4 linked regions of the Homo sapiens genome follow. The protein of the gene in region 4 interacts with the protein of the main gene of each other region in a pairwise test. Each region holds a gene or a part of one and is shown on either strand. Other genes may lie near its edges.

Region 1 (7,220 bases), on a different chromosome or scaffold from region 4:
AGCAATCATGAGAATTCAGAACTAAGGAAGTTTTTTCCAACGTAACTACATCTGCCACGTAAAAAGTATTACTATAAATTTTGCCTTAACACTGTTGAAAAAAATGTAATTGTGATATATGCAGTGGACTGTTATTGACAAGTTAACAAACCATTTTCAGCCTGTAGTGTGAGAAGAGTTACAAATGATTGTTGAATTTATATTGTATGCAACCAATGGAGCATTAGACAAAGCCACTAGTAGTAAACTTCAGAACAGAGGATGAGGGGAAGCCAGCAGCCAAGTGCAACAGGGTAAGATTACCCAAAATAATGCTTTGGATTGCAGAACTGAGTGTATTCTGCATTTTAACTCGTGTCCCTGAATTATTTTTTGTAGATTTTCTCTCCTAGATGCAATTTTAAAATATCATATTTTCTCCTTTTGAGTCATTTAACACATACTAAACATGTAAGTGCTAATCAGTGTTAAGGTCCTGAGGATGCAGAAAACAAGGTACCTGTAGTTGACATTCTAGTGGTCACCACTTTTGACATGTTCATCATTAGGGTTTTGTAAATGTGTGAACAAACTCTTATTCTAAGGCCTGTCTCCTGAATGACAAGCGTAAGTTCTGTTTGCAACCCTACTGCACAATTTACAAGAGTTCTCTACTACGATGGTCCTAGGATGATGGGAGAATGCTGAGCTATGGTGAAACACTGAATTTAACTTAAACAAATGTTTTCTGTCCTACAAGCCTGGATGAAATATATTATCAGTATGGACTGTGATAAATTATGATATAAACACACACTGAAGTGCTTACCATATGCCTCTTTTTAATGTTTTGCCCCTTTGTGAACTCTCAAATGAGATTATAGACAACTGAGCAGAGACTTTATCACACACCTCATTACTAAGGATTCTGTCCAACGTGGACACTCTGGTGCAGTTGAGGACTTGAGGCCTGAGGTGGTATGAAGCCATATCACCCTAGCCACACTTCCATAGTTTTGCTCTTGTGTCAAGCCTCTGAGGCATAAGATTCGAGTGATCTAGCAATCCCACTATTGAGTATATCCAAAGCAAAGGAAATCAGTATGTGGATCAGATATCTACACTACCATGTTCATTGGAGCACTATTCTTCACAATAGTTAAGATATGGAACCCACCTATGTGTCCATCAATAGATAAATGAAGAAAAGGTGGCATATATACACAATAGAATACTCTTTGGGCATAAAAAGAAAACAAAATTGTGTCATTTGTGGCAACATAGATGAGCTTTGGAGGACATGTTAAACAATATAAGCTAAGCAAGGTAAGATAAATACTAACTGTCCTCACACACATATGGAAGCTAAAAAAGTTGATTTCATAGAATTAGTGAGTAAAACAGTGGTTCTAGAAGCAGGGAAGTGTAGGGGTTAGGTGAGATAGCCAAAGATTGGGTAACAAGATACATAAGTACTGCTAGATAGGAGAAATACATTCTAGTGTTCTAAAGCACCAAAGGTGACTATAATCAACAATAATTTATTGTTTCTTTTCAAATCGCTAGAACAATGGATTTTGAATTTTCCCAAAACAAAGAAATGTTAATTGTTTAAGGTAATACACTAATTACATCAATTTGATCATTACGTATTATATACACATATTAAAATTTCATACCATATCCCATATATATGTACAACTTACATATCATTTAAAAATAATGATAAAATTATATCCAGATTCAAGCGCCTCTTGTAGCGCTTCCCACAGTCCTCACATTTGGATGAGTTTTCTCCATTGTGGTCTCCTTGTTGGTCTTTACAGAAAGACCGGTGTACAAGCCTCTTTCCACAATCCTCACATTTGAAGGGTTTTTTCCGGCAGTGGAGTTTCTTATGATTCAAAATACTTGAAGCCCGGCTAAAGCTCTTCCCACATTCCTTACAATTATAAGGTCTCTCTCCAGTATGGACCCTCTGGTGCAAGTTAAGACCTGACTTACTAATGTAGCCCTTCCCACACTCCTCACATCTGTATGGTTTTTCTCCACTGTGGATTCGCTGATGGATCAAAAGATATGAGGACCATCTGAAGCTCTTCCCACATTCTTTACAATTGTACGGTTTCTGTCCTGTGTGAATTATCTGATGCTTATGCAAATCTAGGCTATCAGTGAAGCCTTTTCCACACTCCTCAGATTTGTACAGTTTCTCTGCTGTGTGGACCATGCAATGCCTATTAAGACTTGACCTAAGGCAGAAGCTCTTACCACATATTTCACATTTGAACGGCTTCTCCCCAGTATGAATTATCTGATGTTTCTGAAGCTGGAAATCGTGAATGAAGGCCCTCCCACATTTCTCACAAATATAAGGTTTCTCTCCTGTGTGTAATTTGCAGTGAACTTGAAGTATCGCTCTACATCTGAAGCCTTTCCCACATTGCTCACATTTGAATGGTTTCTCTCCAGTGTGGACTCTCTCACGAGTTTGCAGACATGAGCTCTGACTGAATTCCTTACCACGCATGTCACACTTAGAGAGTTTCTCTCTCAAGTGAACTCTCTGGTGAATACGAAGAGCTGAGATGTAACAGAAGCTTTTTCCACACTCATTGCATGTATGAGACTTCTCTCCTGAGTGGAACTGCTGAGGAGGATCAAAGATGGCAACATCACTGAAGGACTGTTTACACTTCCCATTCTGTGAAGGTTTCTGTCCTGTATGAATTATAGATAGTCCTGCCTCAACCTGGGAGGGGACATCACCTTGTTCAAAGAAGTGAGAATTATTTATGATGGAGTCTTGAGACTGGGTTAAGTCACTTGCAGTTTGTTCCCAGATTTGCTGGCAAGGGCAGTCTTCATGTGGTCCTGCTTCCGCAATAGTCTTGCCGCCTATAAGGACACAGAATGAAGAGATGTGGACAAATGAAGCCTTTGTTTGGTGTTTTTAAGATTTCACACTTAGGATATGGCATTCAACTTTAATGAATGTTCAGTTTATGTTTTCCCCATGAATCTTGTTTTCTGGTTTGTATGTGACCAATTTATAACCACACCATGTCTCATATGTAAAATCCTTGATGGAAATAACAGACTCCATTAAAAAACTGATATAATATATACATTTAATTTGTTACTATTTCTAAGGAATTTTCTGGTCAGTCAAAAATCTTGCATGATAAATTACTAAATTAAAACATTATGTTCATAGTGAAATATAAATCAAAAGGAAATTTAAGGAAAAACAATAACAAAATCAATAGTTTATATATCTGTGTTTATGTTGTATATCCTTATATAGAAGTTACCCTAAGTAAAAAGAAGTCAGAACTTTGTCCTCAGCATCTGAGAGGTAATCTCTAGGATCCTGACATATCATGCGGGAGGACAGTGTCTTTGTTTGTTAGGGTGCCAACTCTGGATCACTCTGGATAGTGAAACAATATGATTTAGGGTTGTGGCTGGCCACTCCTTTCGAGGGTGAGGGGTGGGAGACCGTCCTCCCCATGTCAGAAAGAACAAAAGTGTTGTTTAATCTGTGAAGTCTGTTATTTGTTACCAGCAACAGGGAATACAGTGTCCATGACAGGACAGAGTAACAGCAGGGAGGACAACGTGGCTGGAAAAGATGATGCAAGGGCGAGAGGACAGATGTAGTCAAGAGGCAGCAGGGGATGAAGAACAAACCTCAGGGTCTCTAAAAGCCAATAAAGAGGTTGTAACTTTAATAACATTAATAAACCATAAAGGCTTTTGGACCAAGGAGTGGAAAACTGACTTGCATTTCCCAAGGATCATTTTGGCTGCTCGGGGGAAAATAGATGTCAGGGTGGAAGGGAGGGAACAGGACCACCAGCCAGAAAGGGGTTGTAATAAACCAGGAAAGAGATTGGGCAATTTAGATCAGGGTGATATAAGTGGGCATGGTCAGAAGTAAAACAAATGGGAAAGAAAGTCATGTACAAGGACACACAGTTGCTTGCTTCTTACCTGAATTTCCTTCTCTTTGGGTTGCTGTCTCCATCATCCAAAACTTTTCTTCCCTTAGGAAGTGGAAAGGGTGGAATGGTTGATGCCCTGTGAACATGCAAAGTCATGTGCTTAATACCAATTCATTCTAGGTAATATCAAGGTAAAATTTACTGGAAATTTAAGTTCCCACTGCATACACAAACTTGAATACTCTAGGATACAAAGCCACTCCTGAGGCCTGATGTACCATTACAGAGGGTGCCTGTGCTCACCCACTGACAGCAGGTTCGTGAAGTTCTCAAGCATCACGTCTTGGTACAGCTTCCTCTGGGCAGGGTCCAGTAGCCCCAGTTCCTCCTCAGTGAAGAACACAGCCACATCCTTGAAGGTCACTGCCTCCTATAACATCAAGGATACATAACCTCAATCCTATGACCATGGACTACTGGGGGAGGAGCAGCATTGAGCAGGCGGAGAGGAGAAGTGGAGGTCAACTTATAGATTTCCCACTCATTCTGTCTGTATCCTGACAGTGATTTTCCTGAGCTCCACCAGAAGTGCAATCATGAAAAAGACCTCCTGTATTTTTACTTTGTGCACTTACTGAGTCTCCTTGTAAGTAACCCCTTAGGATTTCAAATGGTGCATCCTGGGCTACACCTATATAGGTTTCAATGAATTTTGCCAATTGCCCCAGTTGCCCCAGCAACAATGAGCAATTCAGTCTCAACCTTGTTTGATGAGGCTTATTGTCCTCCTCTCTCAGACCCAAACCCTGGATGCTATCACTTTTCTTTAGTATTTGCCAAACTAACAGGTTTTAGGTAACTATTTTCAAAGTAGCCTTGGATCCATTCTCCCCACTTTCTTGTTTATAGGTCTCAAGAATAACCATAAATGTGCTAGTTATGCAGTGTCCTTCCCAGGGAAGATAACATCTTTTTATTTTTTTTTATGCCTTCTTTGGTTCTAGTCCAATCCATAAAAGATAATATCTTGAGTTAGAGAGGAACTGCTCAGTAAGTCATGTTACCCCTGAGGCATATAGCCTGGGACAGGCTGCCTCTTGGGGTGCCTCAGCTATGGTGCAAATGGGGCAAGTGCAGTCGTGACTCCACCCACTCTAGGCAGCTTTCTTAAGCCTTGGAGGACTGGCTCACAGTGGATCATAGGCTTCTGTTGTCCCTTGCTACCTACATGTAATAAATCTGCTTTATGTAATTTGTCATACATGAGTGTGCTCTCTCATGGTAGACTCGCCAAGTCTGTAACTAGTGAACCTGTTCCATGGAATTGGTGCAGCCAGCAGGGTCCAATTTGACAGAACTCTGGACTGGCAAAGGGGGAGCACTTATATCCTGGGCAATTGGCCCAGTGCTGTGATGGCAGCCTGGGGGCGCAGGCTGGACAGCAGCTTGATGATTTATAAAGAAGACAGAATGATAAGCGGGACACAGGCCACCCCTCCACAGATGTGAGCTGGCTGCATGGATTGAGACAGAAGGACAGAATACGGAAACACAGGAGCTTGGTGTGTGATCCGCTGATTGCGACACCTTAAATAATAGCTCATTCCTGGGGCCAGAGGACTCAGGAGGTGGGTGAAGTGGGTCAGAGGGTCCCTGGAGCATCTAAGAGAAATGGAGCCAACATGCGCAATGTGGGCCTCCACAGAAAGGGGGACTAACTATCTGATGGACAAGTATGAAGAAAACCAGAAGGACATGTTATCTTGGTGTATAGAGCACTCTTGACATAAGGAACTCCATCATCAATACAAATACAGTTATGAATGTACAAGGAACAGCACAAGAAGAAAAATCAGGCTAATTTGAGAGCAAGGAGGTGAAGAAGTGGGAGCACTGTTCATTCCTACTAATTTTTCTACTCCATAATGTAACAGTAAAAAACAAAACAAAACCCAAACCAAAAACCAAATGCAAAGTCAACACAAAAGAGACAAAGGAAGCAACTGGCACACAACAGGTCCCAAATGCCCATTTCCTCCTTGAGTCTTCCCAAGACAGAGAAAAATATATGACAATATGAGCAATAAGATGGAATTTTAATAGCAAGAGAGGTGAGCTCTACTCACCTTGAATGTGGTCATTTTTCCTACTACTTTTTGGAGTCTTCAGTGTCTTGAGTAATGGAGCACAAAGGAAGGTGGAATTGTGCCTGGAAAATGCCAGAGACAGCAAAAGAGAGACATGAAATGGTGGCTGGGGAGGCTGTGTAGCAACAAGCACATGTATTATGAATGATCACAGCAGCATTATTCATACTAACCCCAAAACTGTGCACAACCAAAATGCCTTCCTCTGGGTAAATGGATAGAAAAATCATGGCATATCCATATAATGGAATCTAATTTGGAAATTAAAAGGAATGAAGTACCAACCCATGCTACAACATGCACAAACCTTGGAAACATCATAAGAGAAAGAAGCCAGTCACCAAAATCCATGGATTAGATGATTCCATTTATATGAAATGTCCGAATAGGCAAATGTATACATAGAGGAAAAGTAGGTTAGTGGTTGCTCCAGATTTGGGGTGAGAATGAGGTTTAATTGTAAATGGGCACAGAGTCCAACTGAGGGTGAAAAATAACTAAACTGAATTATGATGATGGTTACTCCACTTTACAAAGTTCCTAAAGATCACTGTACTCCTGAAATGAGTGAATGCTTTATGTAAAATATACCTCAATAGAGTTGAAAAAAAATTGCTAATCCACATGTCATTTACCTTCATAAGACTGAATTCTGAGTCCATATTGTTGGGAGATTTATACTTGAACAAACAAATGAATAAATGAAGAGAACTAGAAGTTCATCTTTAGTAGAATGCCCACTAATAATGTACCTTCCAATAAGAAACTTGAGTTTTTTTAAAAAAGGTAACTTTACAGCGGACAAATCTGAAAGGCATCATCTTGGCCAAGTGAACACAGTTGAGATCACCAGTGAAGGGACAAACCACATCATGTGAACCCTGTTATGTTGCAATAAAGAGGAAACCTCATCACTTGTGCAATATCCTTACCAACAATACATAATCTGAAACTAAACATGAAATATATCAAACTCCAAATGAACATCTTTCTCCAAAATAACTTTCCTATTAAAAAAAAAACCACCATGTTTATAAAAGACAAAGACTGTGGAATCTTTCTAGACTAAAGAAACTGTGGAATGTGACAACTAAAGACAATGCATAAACTGGACTTTGAATGGCATTGCAGGTGAAGGGTGGGGTAG
Region 2 (7,220 bases), on a different chromosome or scaffold from region 4:
ACCCCGGACTCCCACTGAATGTGCAGGTCCCAGTGGCTGCCTTCAGAGCCTGGCTGGAATCATTAAAAAGGTATTTGTAATCTCTGGCTTCTGCAGAAGGCCCTGCAAACCAAGAGCAAAAAAGCCCCCAGTGCTTATGGGCCGGCAGTGTGGGCTAGGCCCCGGGGCTCCCTGTCCCCAAGAGAAAGACCAGGTTGCTCGGAGGGTGCCTCTGGGAACTTTGGTGCGGGCTATTTGCTCCCCCCATGGCGGCAGGAGCAAGCTGGGACTTGTTTGGGAAGGCCACAGCTGGGTGGTTTTCCTCCTCTGGCTGTACATACACCTTTCAATCCATTTCTTTCATCTTGAAAGGACAAAGACCGGCTTGTCTGAGCCTCTTAATCAGTCAGGCTGGCTTTGGGCTTTGTGGGACCCTGACTTTCTCAGGTCTAGCTTTCTGGGACATCACTCCAAATTAGATGGCAGAGTGGCTTTTAACAGAGCGCACTGACCTTGTTTTCTTTCTCTCTCTGTCCCTAAACTCGAGGTCATTAGTTAGGTGAAGACCTGGGCTGCAGTTTGGCGAGACACTTCCTGTAGATGCTTCTAATGTTGGCCTTTAATTTCTGCTAAGCAGCAGCACACAAATAAATGGCCTGTCCCTTCTATCCTGTTGTAGCTTGGAATTTCTCCATAGGAGGGACTTGGGGGTGGCAGTAGGGTTGGAGAGGGTTGGGGGGAGGTGTAGGAGACTTGTCTGGCCACTGAGTTTGCTGAGAAAGTACTGCTATAGTGTTTTTCCTTGGATTGCAAATCATGTTGATCTGTAGTATTCGAAGTTTTCTAAAGGCAAGTTTATTCTCACAATTTACATAAGAGTGAGAAAATATCACTTGCACATATCAAACTATTACTTCTTATTATGGTGGGAGTTTGGCGGGGGGGGCATGGGTGAGGATCTTGGCAGCCTCTGCTGCCCCTTCGCCCTGCACTGCAGAGCTCTGCTGTCTTGCAGGCAGGCGGCCTGCGTGCGCGGGAGGGGGGACCCTTGCCTGAATTCTGAAGGCTTTTGCAGACCTGGTGCATTTATTCTTCCTTCTGTCTGCCGCCAAACTGGTTTTTGTTCCTATAAGTCGTTCTTGGAATTCAAGTTTTTTGCCAGGCTGAGCGGGATCTAAACTAGAGGGGAAACTAGAGGGGAATTTACGACAAAACCAGGTGGTGGGAATGAGGACTAAAGGCCGCACCTTATGACAAAGCCCAGCCTGTACCATAAAGCCCCAGGCAATGTGAACTGAGCTGCCTGAGTGAGACTCCCATCTTCCCAGCCTGGGCCCCTTAAGTTCAATGGCAAGATTTGTAAACTGGTTTGGATTAACAACCCCGACTCCTCTTTGTAGACTTAATTTTGGAATTCAAAACAGCTACCCTCTCTTAAATAATCCCCAGGCAATGGCGACTCCGCACACTGCATCTAGCCATAGCCCGTTACCATTCTTTCTCTGGGAAGATCCAGCAGCTCTGTTAGGAATCTTGTAAAGTAGCCGGCTGGCACTAGGGGAGTGGAAGTCATCATGTTTATCTCTGGTCCAGGTAATGAAGGCATGAAATTTGTGTAATCTTTGAAGGAAAAGAAGAGAAAGTTGGAAACCTATCATTATTGGAGTCAGCCTATAAAAGTGGCTTTTGTTAATGTAGCTGAAGAGTAGGGAGAAGGCCGTGCAGTTTGATTTTTGCTTTATGCCATCTGGCTGTCCTTTTTGTTGACAAGTGTTTGGCATTAAGACCTCTCCCACTGCCCGTCAAGAGCAGGCCCTACCACTGTAGAGTATTAGAAAAAGATTCTGTTACAGTTTAAAAATTTCCTTCAGGGAGTGCTTCGCAAAGGGGAGCGTGGACTGCAGGCATTTGCAGCTGTAACCTGGCTTGTGTTAAAATTTGGAAGGGGCTGCTCCACATTCCAGCACTCGGAGCGCCGGCCCTCACTGGTGAGCAGCCAAAGGTTAATATAGATGTCACACAGCTCCCCCCTTCTTTCTTTCTGCAGAGCGCCTTTGCTATAGGAGTGCACCAACAGCTGTGTTTTTCGTAACCCTTTCAAAATCACTTCTTTTAAACCTCATTTTCCTGCTTATATAAATCAAAGATTTTCCTCCACTTTTCCCAAGCATGTATGTGACCCAGCTTTGAACTTTTTTCATTTTCTATGTATTTTCCTTCTGGAATCAAGGCAGGGTAAGGCTGAGCCCTGGATGCCAACTTGGGTGGCTGTTTTTGGTTTTGGTTCCAGGGTTGTCATTCGGTTGTGGAGCGGTCCCCATGGAAGGGGTAACAGAGATGGCCCACTTGCAAATCAGTTTCAGGGCAGCAAGGGGGATGATTGTCTGAATGCACAGACAGACGAAACCGCTTTTGAGATGCAGCCCTCTCAAGCTACGGTTTGGGGCTTTACCATGGCGTAGTAGGCTCTCAAGCCTTTGCCGAGATAAACACAGCTGGTGCGCGATCCCCTCACCACCGGAATGCCTGCGATGTGAGTGAATATCACGTGTCCGCTGAACTCAGAGACAACTGGTGACTTCATTCCAGGGAGAGTCCCATCTAAGTTGATTGATCACTCCTATCACTTTAATATCTCTCCCTCATTTGGTAAGGTCATATTTGGCCCATTGCAAGAATCAGCGTGCCCTAAGTCTCCCCCGTCTCCACCCTTCCCCATCTGCCCATCCGTGTAACAGCCTGAATATTTTGAATGGGGAGCCCTTTGCACCATGCTTCTGGCCACATTAATTCTTTCACGCTCACTCTTCAGTCTTAGCGGGGGGGCTGTTGGCACACTGGTTTCTTGGCAAGCCACTGCAAGGCTTCGCCTTAATGCACTCTGGCACTGTCACCGGGGTTAGGGCACAGGCAGGGATGTGTGGGACCTGTCATGTTATTGTCAGAAGGAATGTGCGGATTAGCCTTTACAGCGTAGTGGTGGGAGAGCACTGCAGCTGTGTACACTTATTATAAAAGATTTAAGTCCCACTGGTAAAATCAATATATTGAATTGCACAACCCTCTGCTTTTAATTAGTTTAAATCAAATGCGCCGGTGCCATTTTGCCTTCTCTCGCCTTCATGGGGTGAGGAACTACCAATATTTACATAGAAACTGTTAATTTGTGGTGAAAATGATAACACATTTAGCTTTACACACTCAAATTGCTCCAACTTGATGGATCCCAGATCAACGTGGAGTTGAGCTGAGGAGATGACGTCACCAGGAGCGGGGAGGAGACACCCGTGATGTCTGTTGCTTGGACCCTGGATTCCAGATGCAGGTGGACATGTGTGTAGAGGCAGTGACTGGGGATGCTGGTCCTTCAAGAAGCGAGCTGGTTCTTTCTATTGCAGGTCAAAAACAATGAGATTTACCTACATCATCTAAAATCCTTTCTCGGAAGCATTCTTACAAAATTGCGAAGTGGGCACTTGCTCTTGGGTCATTTTGAGCCTGTTCTCACAGCATGCAAGGGTCATGTACTGGGCAGCTCAAGGCACGGTGCTTTATTTATTCCAGAGCTTCACATGCTTTTCTTTCCAATCCCTGAAACAGTTTATAGAGGAAGGGCGTTTGTTCACTGCAAATGATCCCATGTACGACCGCGGCTATTAGTGAGCCGTTTGGTATTAGCTGTGTGTTCAAGCTGGGATTGAATTCCGGGTTTTGCAGCAAATGGCATCTGACAAATAATAATTGACAAAAAATGTGACTTGGTATTTCTTAATATGGAACAGATAGTTCATTTAAGCTTCCCCGGCAAAAAAAAAATTGCTCAAACTCAAACTGAAATAGCAATGCCAGGGAATACTAGGACTGCTGCTGTGTATTTTTTTCCGCTCCAAAGTAGAGTGTTTATGATTTGGGGGGATATTAGAGTGCATGAAGTTTGACACTTACTTATGCGAAACTCAGGCAAGCATGTGCAATACCGCCTTTTCAACATTTGTGTCGGAAGGCATTGTGGGGAGCCGCGCAAAGCCTGTGCTGATCCGCGTGGAGTGGATTGAATTAATGACAACTCCGAGAGCACCAGCTTTAGGGTAATTGCTTTATTGTTTTGGAGCCAGGGTGCATATAATCCGGTTCCTGTGCAAACATGTTGAACGTGTGTTAATGCATTTCCAAACCAGAGCCTCTCACACAACCCTGCTTTTCATTAATTGATGTCGGTAGCATGGTACAGTATTTCAAAGGGCTGGCCAAGTATAAACTGTGTTTCCAATTTCCTTCCTTTCCTGTGTTTGGAATGCCAATGTTAATTTGTTCCCATGCAGGAGCGGGGGCTGCCAACCGCGGCTTTCTATAAAGGGCTTCACAGTGAAGGCTTCCAGCCCTCGCTGATGCTTGGGGCTGCCTGGCCAAGTCTCCTGACACTTTGCAGCTAATTCTGGGTGATATATGGGGTGGGGGATTGGGGGCTTCACTGCCGTGTAACGGAAGTTCTCGGTGACAGCAGTGGGTGTGACTTGGCAAGGGAGATTGGAACGGCATCCACAGTGATTCTCTTTAGACACAGCCTAAACCTATGTGTCTGTTTCCACTATGACAGCACATTAGCTGTGTGACCTTGGGCAAGTTACTTAACATCTCTGCATTTGTGTCCTCATTTTATAAAGGCTACAAGAGAATCTCTTCCTCAACAGATTCTAAAGAAATAGAAATCATATCACCCATGCGCAGAGGCTGTCACCTAGTAGGTGTAAAACAAATGGTAGCTCTTGTTTTTATTGTGTTGGCCAGATGAAGATTTACGTTGGTATATTAGTCCAAATTTCAGTTTTTAAGTACTTAATCTTAAAATACTGAGATTAAACTGCCCATGTTATTTTAAATGTCAAGAAAATGGTCCCCAGAGTGTGAATATGTGTGCGCCTCCCTCTTTCAGAGATCAATGGAATTTGAATGAATGCACCAAACTTATTTGAGGATGAATAGAGTCTAAGGCTGAATCTTTTCCCCAATTTTAGCATCTATGGTTATTTAATGATTTTACTACTTGGGAAACTGGAACTCAGTGAGAGGGTATACCGGAACTCTCTGTAGTGCCTTTGCAACTTTGAATTAAAAATTAATTTCAAAATAAAATGTTTCATTTAAAAAATTGCATTATTGAAGTATTTCTTCCCAATCCTTTCTGGAAGATGGTCAAAGTACAAATTGTCTTTTCCTTCAAGGGAGTGACAAGCCCAAAGCATTCATTAACAGAACTGCACAACTTCCCCACTTTTTATTGGAGCAGGTGCAAGGCTGCCCAAGGCTCCCGCAGCTGGGGTTAGGCTGCAACAACAAAGCCCTGTGTGGATTCAGCATGTTTAGAAGCCTCTAGAGACCAGAGGACGAAAGAGAATGGCTTCAGGGCCAGATACCGAGGGGTGGCGTTTCTCATTCAAGACTTTCCATAAATTCCCTTCAGCTCTTTATACTGTTTGAAAAATCCGACTCACCAAGTATTAGGTTTCCCTGCATCTCTGAGGTCACGTGTTCTATCACATCTTTATCTCCCTGGAGTAGCTTTCAAGTTTCAATCTTTTGTTGCCTGGCTTAATTAAAATTGGCCACGAATAAAAACTTGCACCGTTTCCAAAATCGAGGACTTGTGTGTTTCTAAGCATTGGGTTTAGGCCTGCCCTGTCTTGTGCTTCCAGCCTGTCTTCTGCTTTCATGTAGCTTGGACTACATGAAGAAAAAGAAAAAGCTAAGCTCTTAGCATGACAGTTGGCATATAATGGTCCAAGTGCTCATCCCCCTGGCAACTTACACACACAAAGGCAGGCAAGTTTTTTTTTTTTTTTTTTTTTGGTGGCTTGTGTTTTGGCCTTCAATAAAGGACACTTTTCCTGTTTTTTTTCAGACAGCCTTATTCTCCTGCCCATGCACAGCCTTGCAGAATTCTCATGGCATAGAAGGTGCTCAGATATTGGTTGTTTCGGTGCACATATGGCATGAAGACATTCTAAGCAGTCTCTTCTAAATGCTTTTGATCTCCAATTCCCACTACTACCTTTTCAGGTACATACCTTAAATAGTAATAAGTTGTATAACTACTGCAGGATAGCTAGGATAGCTTGTGCTTCATAAAACATAGACAAAAATAGAAATTTAAGTAGGAGACACTAAAGCTAAAAGCAATACAAAATTTTGGTGTTTGTTAATTAATACAAATTTTAACTAATGAATCATTTTAATTTTAATTGTTAACACAATTTTAATTAACAATATACATTTAATTAAAATTAAATTTTAATATAATTTAATTAAGTTTGCAGTCATGAAAATTTGCGGTGCAATGGACTGTTCTTTGGTGTTTTCAAAATCATGATTTAACAGTTTAGAATCACTGATCTAAAGGCCTGGTCCCAAATTTCGATGACCCTTCATCTGGTCAGTATAAATGAAGTTATTGTGTGTGAAGAAACTCACAATCTTGGTGCGTTAAAAATCCCAGAAGTTTGTTTTTCATTTGTATCACATTATAGCTCTATCGTGGGTTCAGGGTGGAGGCGTGGAGTTCTGCACATTGGTGGCAGCAGAGTCCCTGGGAGAGGCTGAGGTCCTCAGAATGTTACGAATAAGGTGCCAGAAGGAAAGATAATGTGAACTGTGCGTTGGCTTTTAATATTTCTACCTGGGAGTGACTTTCTAACTTCAAAAATTTCTATTTTTGTCTGTTTTATGAAGTACAAATGATCCTAACTAGTAGTTATACAACTTATTTCTTTTTTTCTTTTTTTTTTGAGATGGAGTTTCGCTTTTGTTGCCCAGGCTGGAGTGCAGTGGCGCGATCTTGGCTCACTGCAACCTCCGCCTTCTGGGTTCAAGTGATTCTCCTGCCTCAGCCTCCGAAGTTGCTAGGATTATAGGTGCCCACCACCACGCCCAGCTAATTTTTGTTATTTTTTTTTATTTTTTATTTTTAGTAGAAATGGGGTTTCGCCATGTTGGCCAGGCTGGCCTCAAACTCCTGACCTCAGGTTTTATCCACCCGCCTTGGCCTCCCAAAGTGCTGGGATAACAGGCGTAAGCCACCTTGCCCAGCCACAACTTATTTCTATTTAGGGTATGTACCCCAAAATTTACTCTTCCACCTGAAAGAGCTTCTGCTCACATTTCATGGGCCAAAGTGAGCCATGTGGCCAAACCTGACCCAAGGTTGGCAAGGAGATGACGATACCACTGCTTGCTCAGAAAGGCAA
Region 3 (8,146 bases), on a different chromosome or scaffold from region 4:
CATACTGAGAGAAGGTTATAGGTTACGGAAACAGGGAAACAGAAAAATTAGGTGATTTCCTTCATTCTAAGATGCATGTTTTTGACCCTGACTTTTTAAAAAATCAAAGTGGATCTCACATTACTGATTTTAAAGTCATCTTTTCTAGGGGAGGGCCACACTGAGTGTATCTTACAACTATGGGTACACTCTGCATTAAAGAAATATGGTAAAGGATTTTGCCCAAATTAGTAAGCAAGAAGGTGGCAGAACTGGGCAACAACAACAACAACAACGACACCACTTCTGTTAAGTTATTAATATATACAAACAGGAATATAGTAGCCTGTTTGGCTCCTCTCTTATTAGTTAAATATACAGGGCCTACCTTCTACTACGCTCTTCCTGAAAGAAATACAGAGCCATACAAAACATCTTTTCTGACTTCAAGAAGTATATAATAGGTACCTACATAATAGAGGTGCCTATACAAGTATCTATACAACAGAAAAGTCTGGGATCAATATCAGAAGAATGACACAAAGTGAGAAACATAAATTCAGAAACGGAGTAGTCACTTTCAGCCAGGATACTGTGAAAATCTTCACACAATAAGAGCTTAATATATGTTGACTGTGAAGGCATTACGGAAAACTCAGATAAGACTTTGAAGGACTGATGGATCTTCCACAGGGAGAGATTGTGCCGGAAAGCACTCTAAGAATAGAGACTAGCAGTGCCCAGGAAAAAAACACCAAAATCAGTCACTGGGACTCAATGGCAGAAGCAAGGTGGGGAATAGCGGGAAAGAAGGCGAGAAATGTAGATAGGGGCTAAAATATAGAGTTCACTGAAGGTCAAACTAAAAATTGTGAGCAAACAGGAGTAGCCTTTTGACATTCATGCTTCAGGATGACTAAACTGACAGTAAACTACACTGGCTGAACTGGAGTAGGGAGAAGTACTGCTGCAGACTATAACAGTGTCAAGAATTCTGTTCCTGAACTAGGTCGTATCAGCAGCAATGACAAGAAAGAAGTGTCTTCCCTTTGAATTGCGTGGGGACTGCTTTTGGATAAGAGCAAATTCCAAGAGAACAGAGCATTAACTTGTTAGGATTTGTAGCCCCACTACTCCATGCACAATACTTTATTTATCCACAGTACAGCCTCAAATAAAAAACTGAAAAAAGGCAACCAGCAAAGTCTGATTTGAATTTTCACCACTAATGAGATAGCCAAATGCCACAGTCACAAGCTTCTATTTCTCAAACCCACTCATATTACAGTTAATGTGGCATTCCTCTCCAATCTTGTTTTTACAGCCTAAATGAAATTTTGCCAGAAGACTTTAGAATTCTCCTTCTTCCAAATACACCACAGCATTTTTCTTTTAAAGTTTACAAATCCAATTTCCACACACACACACACGCACGCACGCATCAGAAAACCTTGCTGAAAACTCATGTATCTAGCAGAAATTTTTTCTTTCAGGCAGCAATAAATATGCTTTTTTTTTTTTTTTTTTTTTTTTTTTGCAAACTCCACCTTCCGGGCTCAAGTGATCCTCCCGCCTCAGCCTCCCAAGTGGCTGGGATTACAGGCGCCTGCCACGACGCCCGGCTAACTTTTGTACTTTTAGTAGAGACGGGGTTTCACCACGTTGGCCAAGCAGGTCTCGAACTCCTGATCTCAGGTGATCCCCCACCTCGGCCTCCGAAAGTGCTGGGATTACAGGTGTGAGCCACCGCGTCCGGCCAACATGCTTCTTTAGTTACTTATAGAACCTGCCACATCATTAGTTCAACTACAAACTGCTGCTTACATGACCGAAGTTGTGCAAAGGGTCCAAAGTTGTGCAAGAGTAACCACTGAAATCAGACTCTGGTATATTAATAGTTGCAACATCTAAACAATCTTTATGTTTATTATTAGATTCAAAGTAATGCCAAATCACAGGTATTAAAAATATCTACGAAGAGTCTGTTTACTTTTCTGTGAAATATACTAGGACGTCATTTTAAGTGAGAATAACTGAATTTCTTTCAGCTCATGGACATGAGCTCACCTGAAAATTAGCAGTTGTGACACCGGACTTGACATATCTAAAACATCAGCGTCCTCAACATACACATACCTAAGTACACACCCAGAGCACTGAACGACTTTACATTACTATATAACCCCAGTTCACACGTGGCAAAAGTCCACAGAACTCGTTCATGCTTTCCTAACCCCGAAAGGGATTCTCCAGCCGTCAAGTAATGAGATGTGACTTATTCTGACGTGAGAGTTGAAGGTGTTAAAAAAGCATATTTTATATATATGTATATATATAAAATACATATTTTAAAGGTTTCCTTTTCTCTTTCTCGGCTGCCTGTCCCACGCCAAAAAGCGCCTTGCCCAGGCCTTGATAGATGCGTGCTGGTGGAGGAAGGTTGGACTGGTCAGGAACCAAGACCCGGGCCCCAACACCTTCTGCTCCCCTAGGTTTCCCTCCTTCTTTTTCCTGGGGCCGCGAAGAGACCTAACGCAAGGGGCCCTGGGGGTGGGGTGCAGTCATGTGAGTCGGGCCCCGGCGGCCCTGCGCTAGGCCTCCCCTCCTGTCACACACTTCCTGAATCGGGCGTCGCAAACGGCTGCCACGGCCCTCAGCTGCAAGACTGGCCGGGTCGGGGGCCGCAGACCGGGCCTGGCCAGGCCGCGGCCGCTCGCAGTGCCCACGTCACCAGCTCCAGCACTGCGGAAATGGAGCGGCGCGGCCAGGAGGGAGGCGCCGGGTGGAGTCCGCGTCCCCGCCACCGCCAGACGCCGTTTGCCCCTCAGCCCGGGTCCGGAGGCCGCCGACACCCGCCCGGCCGCGCCCGGGGCCCTCACCTGTGTCGCCGATTATGATGTACTTGAAGAGATAGGCGTACGCCATGGCCGCGGCCGCTCAGTGCCAGGGCACACGGCTCCTCCTCCCGCTGCTGCTCCTCCTCCGCGCCCCAACCCCGGTGCCGCTCAGCCTCGAAACGCCAGGCGCCGCCCGCCGCCGCCGCTGCTGCTGTCAGCCGCCGGGAGTGAGGGGCTGTGAGGAAGCCGGACGAACTGACACCCGCAGAGCCGAGGGAGACAGCGCCCGACCGAGCCCAGCCGAACAATAACAGCCGCCGCGGCGCCTCCGCCCCGCCTCCGCGCCGACCCGGAAGTTCTGCGGCCGCCGGCGCCGCCGGAGGAAAGGGGAGGAGCCCCGCACGCTGGCCCAGCCCTGCACGCTGGCCGCGCCCCGCCAGCCGGAGCCCCGCCCCGCCCCGCCCCGCGCCTGCCTTGCCCGGTCCGCCCTGTCTTCCAGCAGGGCGGGGCCCGGCTCCGGTTGTTCCGCCACGTTTGAGCGGGCGAGCCCGGCGGCCGGGAGACGCCAGGGAACGGGGCTGGTGGGGGTACAAAGGCTCGGTTCCGTCGCCTTCAGCCCTGCGGTGGGGGCACGGGGCAAGTGAGGGGACGGCAGAGGCGGCGTTCGGTGTGAGGCTGCGCCCTGGGCTCCTGAAAATGTGTGTGAAAATGTGGGAGGCACACGGCGAGGGGGTGGGGGTGGCCTGGTATTTCTGTGTTTGGCATCGGGGCTTGAAGGTGAAAATGGCAGTATTTATAAATTGGAAACCGTAAATCTGGGACTGCAAAGTAAATCATGGTATGCACGCACAGTGGAGTACTACGTTGCTCTCACCTGAGGTCAGGAGTTCGAGACCAGCCTGGCCAACATGGCGAAACCGCGTCTCTACTAAAAATACATTAGCCGGGCGTGGTGGTGCTCGCCTGTAATCCCAGCTACTCGGAGTCTAAGGCAGGAGAATCACTTGAACCTGGGAGGTGGAGGTTGTAGTGAGCCGAGATTGAACCACGGCACTCCAGACTGGGCGACAGAGCGGGACTCCGTCTCAAAATAATAATAGTAAATAAAAAATAAATAAAGTCTCTGAACCTGTCCTGGTTCTGAGGGCTGCTCTAAAAAAAAAAAAAAAAAAAAAGCCTGACTTAGGTTAAGCAAAACCGAGATGATCTGTTTATGTGTGTGTATATAACATGCACCATATGTAATATATGAATTGTATATAATTTTTATGTGTAACAAATAGTGGGAAAACATTTACATACCCATATATGCATAATCAATCTGAAAGGAAAGCTAACTGGTATTAAGAGAAAGGAGGGAATGGGATTGGGGGGAAAATGTACTTTTCCCTGAATTTTTTTGTGCAGTTTGACATTTTTTGCAGTGTTCATGAGTTACCTATTAGGAAATACTGTTAAAGGAAAAAACAAAATGACTGTGCATTCAAAGAATAGTTATTGAATACTATGTTTCATGTACCGCCAGGCACAGCAACTGGAGGCCCTGTATGTTCTATGTTCTGTTTTTCTACTTTGCTTTTTCAGTCATCCAGCCCAAAATGTCACCACTCTGTTCAAAAAGACCACAGGTTATGGAAGAGGAGGTGGAGAATAGGGTGTCAGGAAAGGTTACTTAGAGATTATGATTTCTGAGCCAGGAATATGAATTATGTATAGAGTTTGTCGAAAGAACAACAGTTTGGGGAGGGGAACCAAAGTTTATGGACAAGGAACAGAATGTGCAAAATTCCTGGATCTGTTCAGGGAATTTGAAGTTGCATAAGGAAGCTAATTGACTAACTCATATCCTCATAACCCATAACCTCATATTGAAGGAGAATCATTGCTGGGGAAAAGCGATTGGGATTTAGTGGCCCTCGTTCCTGTTGCCTAATACTCTTCTCTTTGGGGCCTCTCATTATGTAATTAGTACTGACACCATCATGCTGGGTTGCTAACATGCTTTGGATGGCCTTGCCAAATATGAACTCACAAGGTTTTTCTGGAATATTTGGAGGGGATTTTACTAAAGGGTCAGAGATGGCACGGAAGAATTTGACATGAAAATTTGACATGAAAAGCTACCTGGAATCGCAAAATTTGGTTCATTCACCTTTAGTTTGAGGAAGGGGAGGTCCCTGCCCAAGGCCTCCAGTTTTCAGATGTCATTTTGTCCCTCCCACTTGAGTGCCTTCACCCAAGTCTTCCTTGGTGATGGAGAAACTCAAGTCTTCACTCTCACAAGATAGAGGGATGTGGCCTTCCTTCACCAGCACAACTCTATTAGGATGTTATACAAATGCCTGGCATCCTAGGAGTCAGGAGTATTCCTACACTGTTAGAGGAGGAGAGTACCTGGAGAGGTCTCTTGTGCCAGGTTATGTAGGGCCTTGTATGTTATGTCACCATGCATTTAGAACTTTACTTAGTAGACAAAGGAAATTGTGACAGGAAATGGTCAGAACTGGGTATGTAACAAAAATCATAGAAATGGATATAAAGCTATAGAGGCAATGTGTTATAAGGAAAATAGGATACCTGGCTTCTGGTCTTGGCTCTACCTGTAACTGATCGGATGAATGTGAGGAATCGTTTGGCCTCTTAAAGCTTCAGAGCACAGGTTGCGATGGCTTGTGCCTGCGGTCCCAGCTACTTGGGAGGCTGAAGAGGGAGGATAGCTTGAGCCAAGCAGTTTGAGGCAGCAGTGAGCTAGGATGGTGCGACTGCACTCCAGCTTGGGCTATAGATTGAGACCTTGTGTCTTAATAAATAAAATAATTATTAAAATAAAAATAATTTAAAAAATTATGAGTGGTTCAGTGCACTTGTCTATTAAGTAAAGGAGTTAAGTGTTTCTTAAAAGGGCTATTCCAAGCATGACGTCTTTTAATTTTATGCTTAGCCAGCCTCCAAATCTAAAGCCATCTGTAAAGAAGGTAGTAATCCTCTCGTGAAAATGCAGGGGCCATAGATGTCAAATGCATATTGTTCTGATTGATTGATTGATTGATTGAGAGGAGGTCTTGCTCTGTCATCTAGGCTGGAGTACAGTGACCCAGTCATGGCTTACTGCTGTCTTGACTTCCTGGGCTCAGGTGATTGTCCTGCCTCAGCCTCCTGAGTAGCTGGGATCACAGGCACATGCCACCACGCCTATATCATTTATTATTATTATTATTATTTGGAGAGATGGAGACTCCCTCTGTTACTCAGGCTGGTCTTGAACTACTGGCCTCAAGCAATTCTCCCACCTTGAAGAACAGGATTTTCAAGTTCTTCTCTGGGCTTCAGTTTCCTTATTTGGAATATGTGGATAATAACTGCTTAACAAAGTCCATTTAGGATCAAATGAGATAATGTATGTGAAAATACTGTGTAAATTATGAAAAATGTATACCTAATACATAAAACTCTTTGCACTGCATAATTTTTGGAAATTACTTGAGGGGCTGAGTGCGGTGGCTCATGCATGTAATTCCAACACTTTGGGAGGCAAAGTCTGGAGGATCCCTTGAGCCTTGGAGTTCAAGAAGATCAGCATGGGTTACATGGTGAGATCCTGTCTCTACAGAAAATTAAAAAGAAAAAAAAGAAATTAACTTGAGGAACTAAAGGCCTAATCACTATATAAATTCATGGTTTAAAATTAAGTTTGTTCCTGGCTCTATTTTATGTCTCTACCTTTTTTCCTATGTATGATTCATAATATTTTGTTATATTTTCTATAAACCTATAATCTCTTAAATCTTCGAAAAAATACAGGGTATAAATAAAAATCACATAAACCTCATTTAAAACATTTTCTTTAGCCCATAAAAATCCAAACATATTTTTCAAGAAAAGTCCCCCAGACAAAATAACAGAAATAAACCTCTCTTCCATTAAATATAGTATACTTCCTGGAATTTTCCATTCAGTTTGATTTTCGGCTATTTTCAGTCTCTTAGGATGTGTTGTGGTAACTCTGTCTCTCAGCCTTACATCATATATGGTCTGAAGGTCATAACTGTGAAATTTCAAGATTGTAGCACTACATTCTTCAGTGTCTCCTAATCAAGTTCTCCATGACATTTTTGAGTACAATACTATATTAGAAGTTTGCATTTGCTTCTCCCAACTAAACTTTCATGTTTATATTTTCTTTGGTTTTAATTACTCTCAGGCTTTGGGAAGAGGGATAGGGTGGAGTGGAATGGGAGAAGGTGGTTGGGAATACTGTAATCTTGAGGTTTTTGCCTTGGTTTCCATGGTTCCTTAGCCACTCCTTCTGAAATGGTATGCAAAACTGATAATGATGTATATATTTGCACATGTACACTTTTATGGGAGAGATTCTTCCATGACCCAGAAATAATTAAGAACAATTGTGAAATGCCTTCCTTCAGCCATCTCCAAGTACCATAACAGAACTAATTTTCCAGCAAATACTTAAACTCAGTACCAGTTTGTTTGTTTGTTTGTTTTTTAGAAAAAGTCTCTCTCTGTCACCCAGGCTAGAGTGCAGTGGTGCGATTTCAGCTCACTGCAAGCTCCACCTCCTGAGTTCAAGCGATTCTCATGCCTCAGCCTCCCAAGTAGCTGGGACTGTAGGTGCACACCACCATACCCGACTAATTTTTGTATTTTTAGTAGAGATGGGGTTTTGCCATGTTGACCAGGCTGGTCTCAAACTCCTGGCCTCAAGTGATCCACCTGCCTTGGCCTCCCAAAGTGCTGGGATTACAGGTGTGAACCACCACACCGGAACTCAGTACCAGTTTTGGAAGAAGAAATAATTAGATTCAAATCCTGACTTTACCACTCAACATCAGTTGAGTGATCTTTGATAGATTACTAAATGCTCTAAGCCTTAGTTTCCCCTCTGAGATGACATATATAAAATGTCTAGCACTATGTCAAGCACACAGAGGACACTTCTTAAACATTGAGGTTGTTTCCCCCTTCCTTTCCTCTCCTCCTTGTCCTCCTCCACCTTCAACCTGTTAATAAGAACTGTAGCTGCAAAGGAAATATATCTCTCCCTCTGCCCCAACTCTCACAACTGGCAATAACAAAAAACAAAAAACCACAGGAGGCTGGGCGCAGTGGCTCATGTCTGTAATCCCAGCACCTTGGGAGGTCGGGGCAGGTGGATCACCTGAGGTCAGGAGTTTGAGACCAGCCTAGTCAACATGTCAAAATCCCATCTCTACTAAAAATACAAGAATTAGCTGGGCATGGTGGCACGCACCTGTAGTCCCAGCTACTTGGGAGGCTGAGGCAGAAGAATCACCTGAACTCGGGGGTAGTTG
Region 4 (7,220 bases):
TTGCTCTGTCGCCCAGGCTGGAGTGCCGTGGCGCAATCTCAGCTCACAGCAACCTCCGCCTCCTGGATTCAAGCAATTCTCCTGCTTCAGCCTCCTGAGTAGCTGGGATTACAGGCACGCGCCACCACACCCGGCTAATTTTTGTATTTTTAGCAGAGACGGGGTTTCACCATGTTGGTCAGGCTGGTCTCAAACTCCTGACCTCATGATACACCCGCCTTGGCCTCCCAAAGTGCTGGGATTACAGGTGTGAGCCACCGCACTGGCCCAAAAATTTTTTTTTAAATTAGCTGGTGGCACACGCCTACTCAGGAGGCTGAGGTGGGAGAATTGCTTGGCTCTGGGAGGTGGAGGCTGCAGTGAGCCATAACTGTGCCTCCACACTCCAGCTTAAGCTACAGAGCAACATTCTATCTCAAAAAATTTTTTGTTCGGCCTGGCGCGGTGGCTCATGCCTGTAATCCCAGCACTTTCAGAGGCCAAGGTGGGCGGATCACTTGAGGTCAGAAGTTCAAGACCAGTCTGGCCAATATGGTGAAACCCCATCTCTACTAAAAATACAAAAAAATTAGCCGGGCATTGTGGCGTGTGCCTGTAATCTCAGCTACTCAGGAGGCTGAGGCAGAAGAATTGCTTGAACCTGGGAGACAGAGGTTGCAGTAAGCCGAGATTGCGCCACTGCACTCTAGCCTGGGCGACAGAGAAAGACTCCATCTCAAAAAAAAAAAAATTTGTTAATTTGTTAATCAAAAAGGTATCATATTTGCATATTATCTAGGCACATCCTCCTGTGTACTTTATATATATTTTCAATTGTCTCTAAATTACGTATAATATCTAATACACTGCCTATACATCACTTCATTCCCGTGGATTTAACCTCGTACTCTGAGTCCTGCAAATTCGTCTTTGTTTTTGGAACACTGTGGATTTTTTTTTCCAAATATTTTCAACCCTGGTTGGTTGAATCAACCAATGTGGAACTCACGGAGCTCCTATCCCACCTCAGGCCACGCACAGCAGGTTTGGTTAGACTGTACTTGCTTTTAGGGCAGAAAAACAAAACCGGCACCCTAGCAGGACTCCACAGCAGATACAGAGGAGTTATGCCTGCCTTTCTTCCCAGCAGAAAACTTCTCCTGGCAAAAATGCCTACAGATCAACTAGTATCACTGAGCCCTCCCCATGTGGAGACCACCCTAGTCACCTACCTGGTGACAGTGAAGCAGCCGGGAGAAGCAGAAATGCTCAACCTTGTGCCTCCAGGACAGAGTGCAGTTAAGAGGGACTTTCACCACCAGGCATTTCAAAACAGCTGCTTTGCTATAGCTATTTAGAAATATTTCATCCTTCTCTCAAGGCTCATTAAAAAAAAAAGTGGGGTGTGGGGGTATAAACATGTCTAACATTTTTCTCTAAATATCCTGCTGTTTAAGTAGTTGCTTCCAAAACTTCGAAAGACATTTAATCTCAGTCTTGCATTTGTTGTGGAGATCTCTCTATTCTTCCACTATTAAACCTTATGTAGACACCAAATAAATCTGACCATGTATTAAGGAATTTCTGTCATTTTTAGGATCAAAATGCCATATATTTTCAATGTTAAAAACAAATACCCTTAAAAGATTTGAACAGATATGTCATCAAAGAAGATACATGGATGGAAAGATGCTCAGCATCATTAGTTATCAGGCAATTATAACTTAAACCCCAGTGAGATTCCACCTCACCGCACTGACAATTCCAAGTGCTGCTGAGGATGTGGAGTAACTGAAACTCTCATACATTGGTGATGTGAGTAAAACATGGTACAACCACTGTGGAAAACAATTTGATAGCTTCTTACAAACATGTGACCTGGCAACTGCATTCTTCAGGATTTACTCAAGAGAAACAGAACCCCATGTCCGTACAAAGATGTGTGCATGAATATTCATACATCACTCAATTTGTCAAAAATTGGAAACAACCCAAGTGTCCATCTGCAGTAAAACAAAGAAACTGTGGTCTGTCCATACAACAGAATATATTTGTCAGTAAAGAACAACGCATTTCTGACATATGCATTACACATGCAATGCATTTCCGATATATGCAATGAATTTCCCAGACATTACGCTAACAAAAAAGCACATACTAGGCCGGATGTGGTGGCTCCCACCTGTAATCCCAGCATTTTGGGAGGCTGAGGTGTGAGAATCACTTGAGGCCAGGAGTTCGAAACCAGCCTGGGCAACATAGCGAGATCCCCATCACTAATTAAAACAATAAATAAATAAACAACAGCACATACTGTATGAAATACTGGGAAAACTAACACACAATGATGGTAAACAAATTAATGGTTGCTTGGCATTGGAGAAATGACCACAAAGGGCATGAGGGAAGTTTTCTGGGGTAATGGAAAACTTCTATATCTTCACCACAGTGGCCACTTATCAAAACTCATTAGGCTGGGTGTGGTGGTTCATGCCTGCATCTCAGCAGTTTGGGAAGCCAAGGTGGGCGGATCACGTGAGGTCAGGAATTCAAGACCTGCCTGGCCAACATGGTGAAACCCCATCTCTACTAAAAAATACAAAAAATTAGCCAGGTGTGGTGGTGCATGCCTGTAGTCCCAGCTACTTGGGAGGCTGAGGCAGGAGAATGGCTTGAACCCGGGAGGCAGGGGTTGCAGTGAGCCGAGCTTGCACCACTGCACTACAGCCTGGGCAACAGAGTGAGATTCTGTCTCAAAAAAAAAAAAAAAAAAGATGTAATAATACCTAGCACTTGTTGCCTGCTTTCCATGTGCTAGACAGTTTTAAGTGCCTTAGATTATATTTATTCTTTACAAACACTCTGCAAGAAAATACCATTATTAAGTACGAAAATTAAACTGAAGCAGACAGAGACTGAGTAACACAGTCAACCAGAAGTGGAGATGGATTTTTTTTAAGAGACAGGGTCTCGGGCTGGGCACAGTGGCTCACGTCTGTAATCCCAGCTCTTTGGAAGGTCGAGGTGGGCGGATCACGAGGTCAAGAGTTTAGGACCAGCCTGGCCAACATGGTGAAACCTCATCTCTACTAAAAATACAAAAATTAGCCAGGTGTGGTGGCAGGTGCCTGTAATCCTAGCTATTCGGGAGGCTGAGGCAGGAGAATCACTTGAAACCAGAAGGTGGATGTTGCGGTGAGCCAAGATCGTGTCACTGCACTCCAACCTGGGTGAAAAAGCAAAACCCTCTGTCTCAAAAAAAAAAAAAAAAAAAAAAAAAAGAGAGACAGCATCTCACTCTGTTGCTCATTGCTTAGGCTGAAGTGCAGTGATGGCATCCACAGCTCACTGCAGCCTCGACCTCTTAGGCTCAAGTGATTCTCCCACCTCAGTCTCCAAAGTAGCTGGGACTACAGATGTGTACCACCTTGCCAGGCTAATTTTTAATTCATTTTGTAGAAACAGGGTCTCGGGCCAGCCAGTCTTGAACTTTTGACCTCACGGGATCCTTCCACCTCAGCCTCCCAAAGTCCTGGGATTACAGGCATGAGCTACCACCCCTGGCCCAGAGACAGATTTTTAATCCAGATATCTGATGTCAGAGCCAACACTCTTAGCCACTGTTTTGTATTATTTGGAGAATTTCAATGAAATTAACATCAGAGTATACCAAGTTTCTATTATTTATGACTTCAAATAGAACTTAAAGTAAAAGTCTAAAATATCTAGTTTGAGCAACATCTAACAGATTCTGGATCCACTTTTTCCCAGATTTTTATAAAATCATCTTGGTTCTTTTACAAGATTATTTCCTTAAAAAGGAGATTTACCTATTTTGTCAAGGTAGATAAGAAGATATTTATTGAATCAAAGAATAATCCCTTGAGAGGCTGTGTTTTACCTCTAGTGCAGTAGACTCCTGCTTGTTAAGGGCAACCTCTGGCCTGTGTTAAGAAGGGTGTGGTCAGGATTAGGCAGGCAGCAGAGAAGAAAATGGAATTGGTCAATATAAGGGGGAAAAGCTGTAAAAGGAAAGAGTAAGCAATTGTAGAGTTAGCTAAGAATATTTTTCAATGCACCACATAAATTCAGGCATCATGGGTACGCCTTCCTGCTATTCAGAGTTGAATATAATGAGGTTTTGTTGTTGTTTTGTTTGTTTTTTATCCCTGCCTACTGTTTCTTAAACTTAACTTCAGGCTGGGAATGGTGGCTCATGTCTGTAATCCCTGAACTTTGTGAGGCCAAAGAAGGAGGACTGCTTGAGCCTAGTAGTTCAGACCAGCCTGGGCAACACAGTGAGACCTCATGTCTACAAAAAAAGGAAAAAAAGAAAACTGCTGGGCATGGTGGTGCACACCTGTAGTCCCAAGCTACACGGGAGCCTGAGGTGGGAAGTCAAGGCTGCAGTGAGCTGTGATCACGCCACTGCACTCTAGTCTGGTCAACAGAGCAAGACCCTGTCTCTAAAAATAAATAAAATAAAATGTAACTTCAGGGACTGCTGACTGTATATTCTCCCACTTTTTTTTTTTTTTTTTTGAGACAGCGTCTTGCTCTGTCGCCCAGGCTGGAGTGCCCTGGCGAGATCTCGGCTCACTGCAAGCTCCGCCTCCCGGGTTCATGCCAGTCTCCTGCCTCAGCCTCCTGAGCGGTTGGGACTACAGGTGCCCGCCACCACGCCCGGCTAATTTTTTGTATTTTTAGTAGAGATGGGGTTTCACCGCGTTAGCCAGGATGGTCTCGATCTCCTGACCTCATGATCTGCCTGCCTCGGTCTCCCAAAGTGCTGGGATTACAGGCATGAGCCACCCCGCCTGGCCTATTCTCCCACTTTTTATATGCTGATAGTAAGGTAACATGAAATACCATACAAATTAAACTTCACTTTTGAAACACATTACTTCCAAGAAAGTGAAAATATTTGAAGTCACTAAACTATCCAACCAGTTTAATGTATTCAGGGTTGATGACCAGGGAAGCAGCAGGATGTGTTAACGGAGAAGGCACTGACTCGAGAGGTCTGGGTTCAAATCTCACTTCACCACTTGCCACTTTTTGATCTTGGGTAAGTCATTTAACTTCTTAGAGCCTGTTTTATTTCTTAACAGGGGTTTAAGCATAACTACTTTATTGGGACATTTTTGGGCACCACTGATATATTTGAAATCAACTATGGTAGCCAAATCAATGTTTATTGAATTTGAATACTATTTTCTTCAATTGTCAATTTAGGGGACTAGATTTTTGGTTCTTCAGAGCTCTAAAATTGTTTCTGTATCAGCATTTTCCAAAGTGTGCTCCATGGAACATGTTCTCCAGACTATTAGGTTTTGCTAGGAATAAAAGTGTCCTTTTGGTTTTATTGAGGGCTGGAGTGCAATGGCGCAATCTCAGCTCACTGCAACCTCCGCCTCCCAGGTTGTAGCAATTCTTGTGCCTCAGCCTCCCAGGTAACTGGCATTATAGGCACCTGCCACCATGCCCAGCTAATTTTTGTATTTTAGTAGAGACAAGGTTTCACCATGTTGGCCAGGTTAGTCTCAAACTCCTGACCTCAGGCCATCCGCTCACCTCTGTCTGCCAAAGTGCTGGGATTATAGGCGTGAGCCACCAAGCCTGGACTTTTTTTGTTTTAATTTTTTAAATTAAAATGAGTCTGTATTTATGCCTGTTTTATGTTCAATGCATTCAGCAATTTACTCTACCATTTAATTTCTAATTGGACAAAATTAGAAAATAATAAAATATGTTGAACAATAAAGAAATAGTTAAATCTTGGTTTAACAACTTTATAAAATACTATGTAATTAAACAAAATTAATTAAATAAGTATTAGAGTTATAGTGTATTTAACATAGTTTAAGAATAATCTCCAGCCTGGGCAACAAGAGTGAAACCCCATCTCAAAAAATAAAAATAAAATAAAAATAAAAATAAAAATACTATGTAGTATAGACTAGGCAGCAACATGATAAATGCTCACATATACAAGTGTAAAACATAAAAAGCAGAATTCAAAGTTGTCTGTACTAGAACAAAGATTAGAAGAAAAACAAAAGATAAAAATAAATTAGTAGGATTAGAGTATTTTTCCATATACCATTTTTATAATATTGTATTTTAACAGTACTACAAAATCTAAGAATATCTACAGCTGATTCTGTACTATATGGTAATCTTGAATAGATAAACACAGAGGTTCCTTCATACTTTATACGTTTGACTTTTTTTTTTTTTTGAGATGGAGTCTCGCTTTGTCACCCAGGCTGGAGTGCAGTGGCGCCATCTCACCTCACTGCCAGCTCCGCCTCCTGGGTTCACACCATTCTCCTGCCTCAGCCTCCTGAGTAGCTGGGACTACAGGTGTCCGCCACCACGCCCGGCTAATTTTTTGTATTTTTAGTAGAGATGGAGTTTCACCGTGTTAAGCAGGATGGTCTCAATCTCCTGACCTCATGATCCGCTGGCCTCGGCCTCCCAAAGTGCTGGGATTAGAGGCGTGAGCCACCACGCCCGGCCTACCTTTGACTTTTAAAAGACGACTTGAACCAACATATCAATATATGCTGTCTAAAATAGATGTGTCAACGTTTAGGATTAAAGTATTTATTTTTATATGGACAGAGTCTCAGTCTGTTGACCAGGCTGGAGTGCAGTGACAGCTCACTGCAGCCTCGACCTCTGGGCTCAAGTGACCCTCCCATCTCAGCCTCCCGAGTAGCTGGGACTACAGGCATGTGCCACCACACCTGGCTAATTTTTTTGTTCTTGTAGAAGCTAATTTTTGTATTTTTTGTAGAGACGAGGTCTCCTTATATTGCCCAGGCTGGTCTCAAACTCCTGGGCTCAAGCAATCCTTCTGCCTCGGCCTCCCAAAGTGCTGAGATTACAGGTGTGAGCCACCATGCCCAGCCAGGATTCAAGTCTTTTTTTTTTTTTTTTTTTTTGAGACGGAATTTTGCTCTTGTCACCAAGGCTGGAGTGCAATGGCGTGATCACGGCTCACTGCAACCTCTGCCTCCTGGGTCAAGTGATTCTCCCACCTCAGCCTCCTGAGTAGCTGGGATTACAGGTGCCTGCCACCACACCCAGCTAATTTTTGTATTTTTAGTAGAGATGGGATTTCACCATGTTAGCCAGGCTGGTCTCGGACTCCTGACCTCAGATGATCCACCTGTCTCGGCCTCCCAAAGTGCTGGGATTACAGGCATGAGCCACCGAGCCCAGCTCGGATGTAT

What was found.
Region 1: the proteins of CCDC125 (region 4) and ZNF230 interact in binary tests that used the Homo sapiens proteins (3 or more experiments, as listed by UniProt).
Region 2: the proteins of CCDC125 (region 4) and BMP7 interact in binary tests that used the Homo sapiens proteins (3 or more experiments, as listed by UniProt).
Region 3: the proteins of CCDC125 (region 4) and RAB2A interact in binary tests that used the Homo sapiens proteins (3 or more experiments, as listed by UniProt).

The regions. Positions count from the first base shown.
Region 1 is NC_000019.10:44,005,926-44,013,145, reverse strand, and holds part of ZNF230 (zinc finger protein 230), read right to left. Parts: intron 6,136-7,220; 5' UTR 6,068-6,135; coding exon 6,053-6,067; intron 4,357-6,052; coding exon 4,230-4,356; intron 4,063-4,229; coding exon 3,976-4,062; intron 2,878-3,975; coding exon 1,682-2,877; 3' UTR 1-1,681. UniProt on the Homo sapiens protein: May be involved in transcriptional regulation.
Region 2 is NC_000020.11:57,256,430-57,263,649, reverse strand, and holds part of BMP7 (bone morphogenetic protein 7 preproprotein), read left to right. Parts: intron 1-7,220. UniProt on the Homo sapiens protein: Growth factor of the TGF-beta superfamily that plays important role in various biological processes, including embryogenesis, hematopoiesis, neurogenesis and skeletal morphogenesis.
Region 3 is NC_000008.11:60,511,966-60,520,111, reverse strand, and holds the start of RAB2A (ras-related protein Rab-2A), read right to left. Parts: upstream 3,126-8,146; 5' UTR 2,905-3,125; coding exon 2,859-2,904; intron 1-2,858.
Region 4 is NC_000005.10:69,322,592-69,329,811, forward strand, and holds part of CCDC125 (coiled-coil domain-containing protein 125), read right to left. Parts: intron 2,122-7,220; exon of another isoform or gene 1,212-2,121; intron 1-1,211. UniProt on the Homo sapiens protein: May be involved in the regulation of cell migration.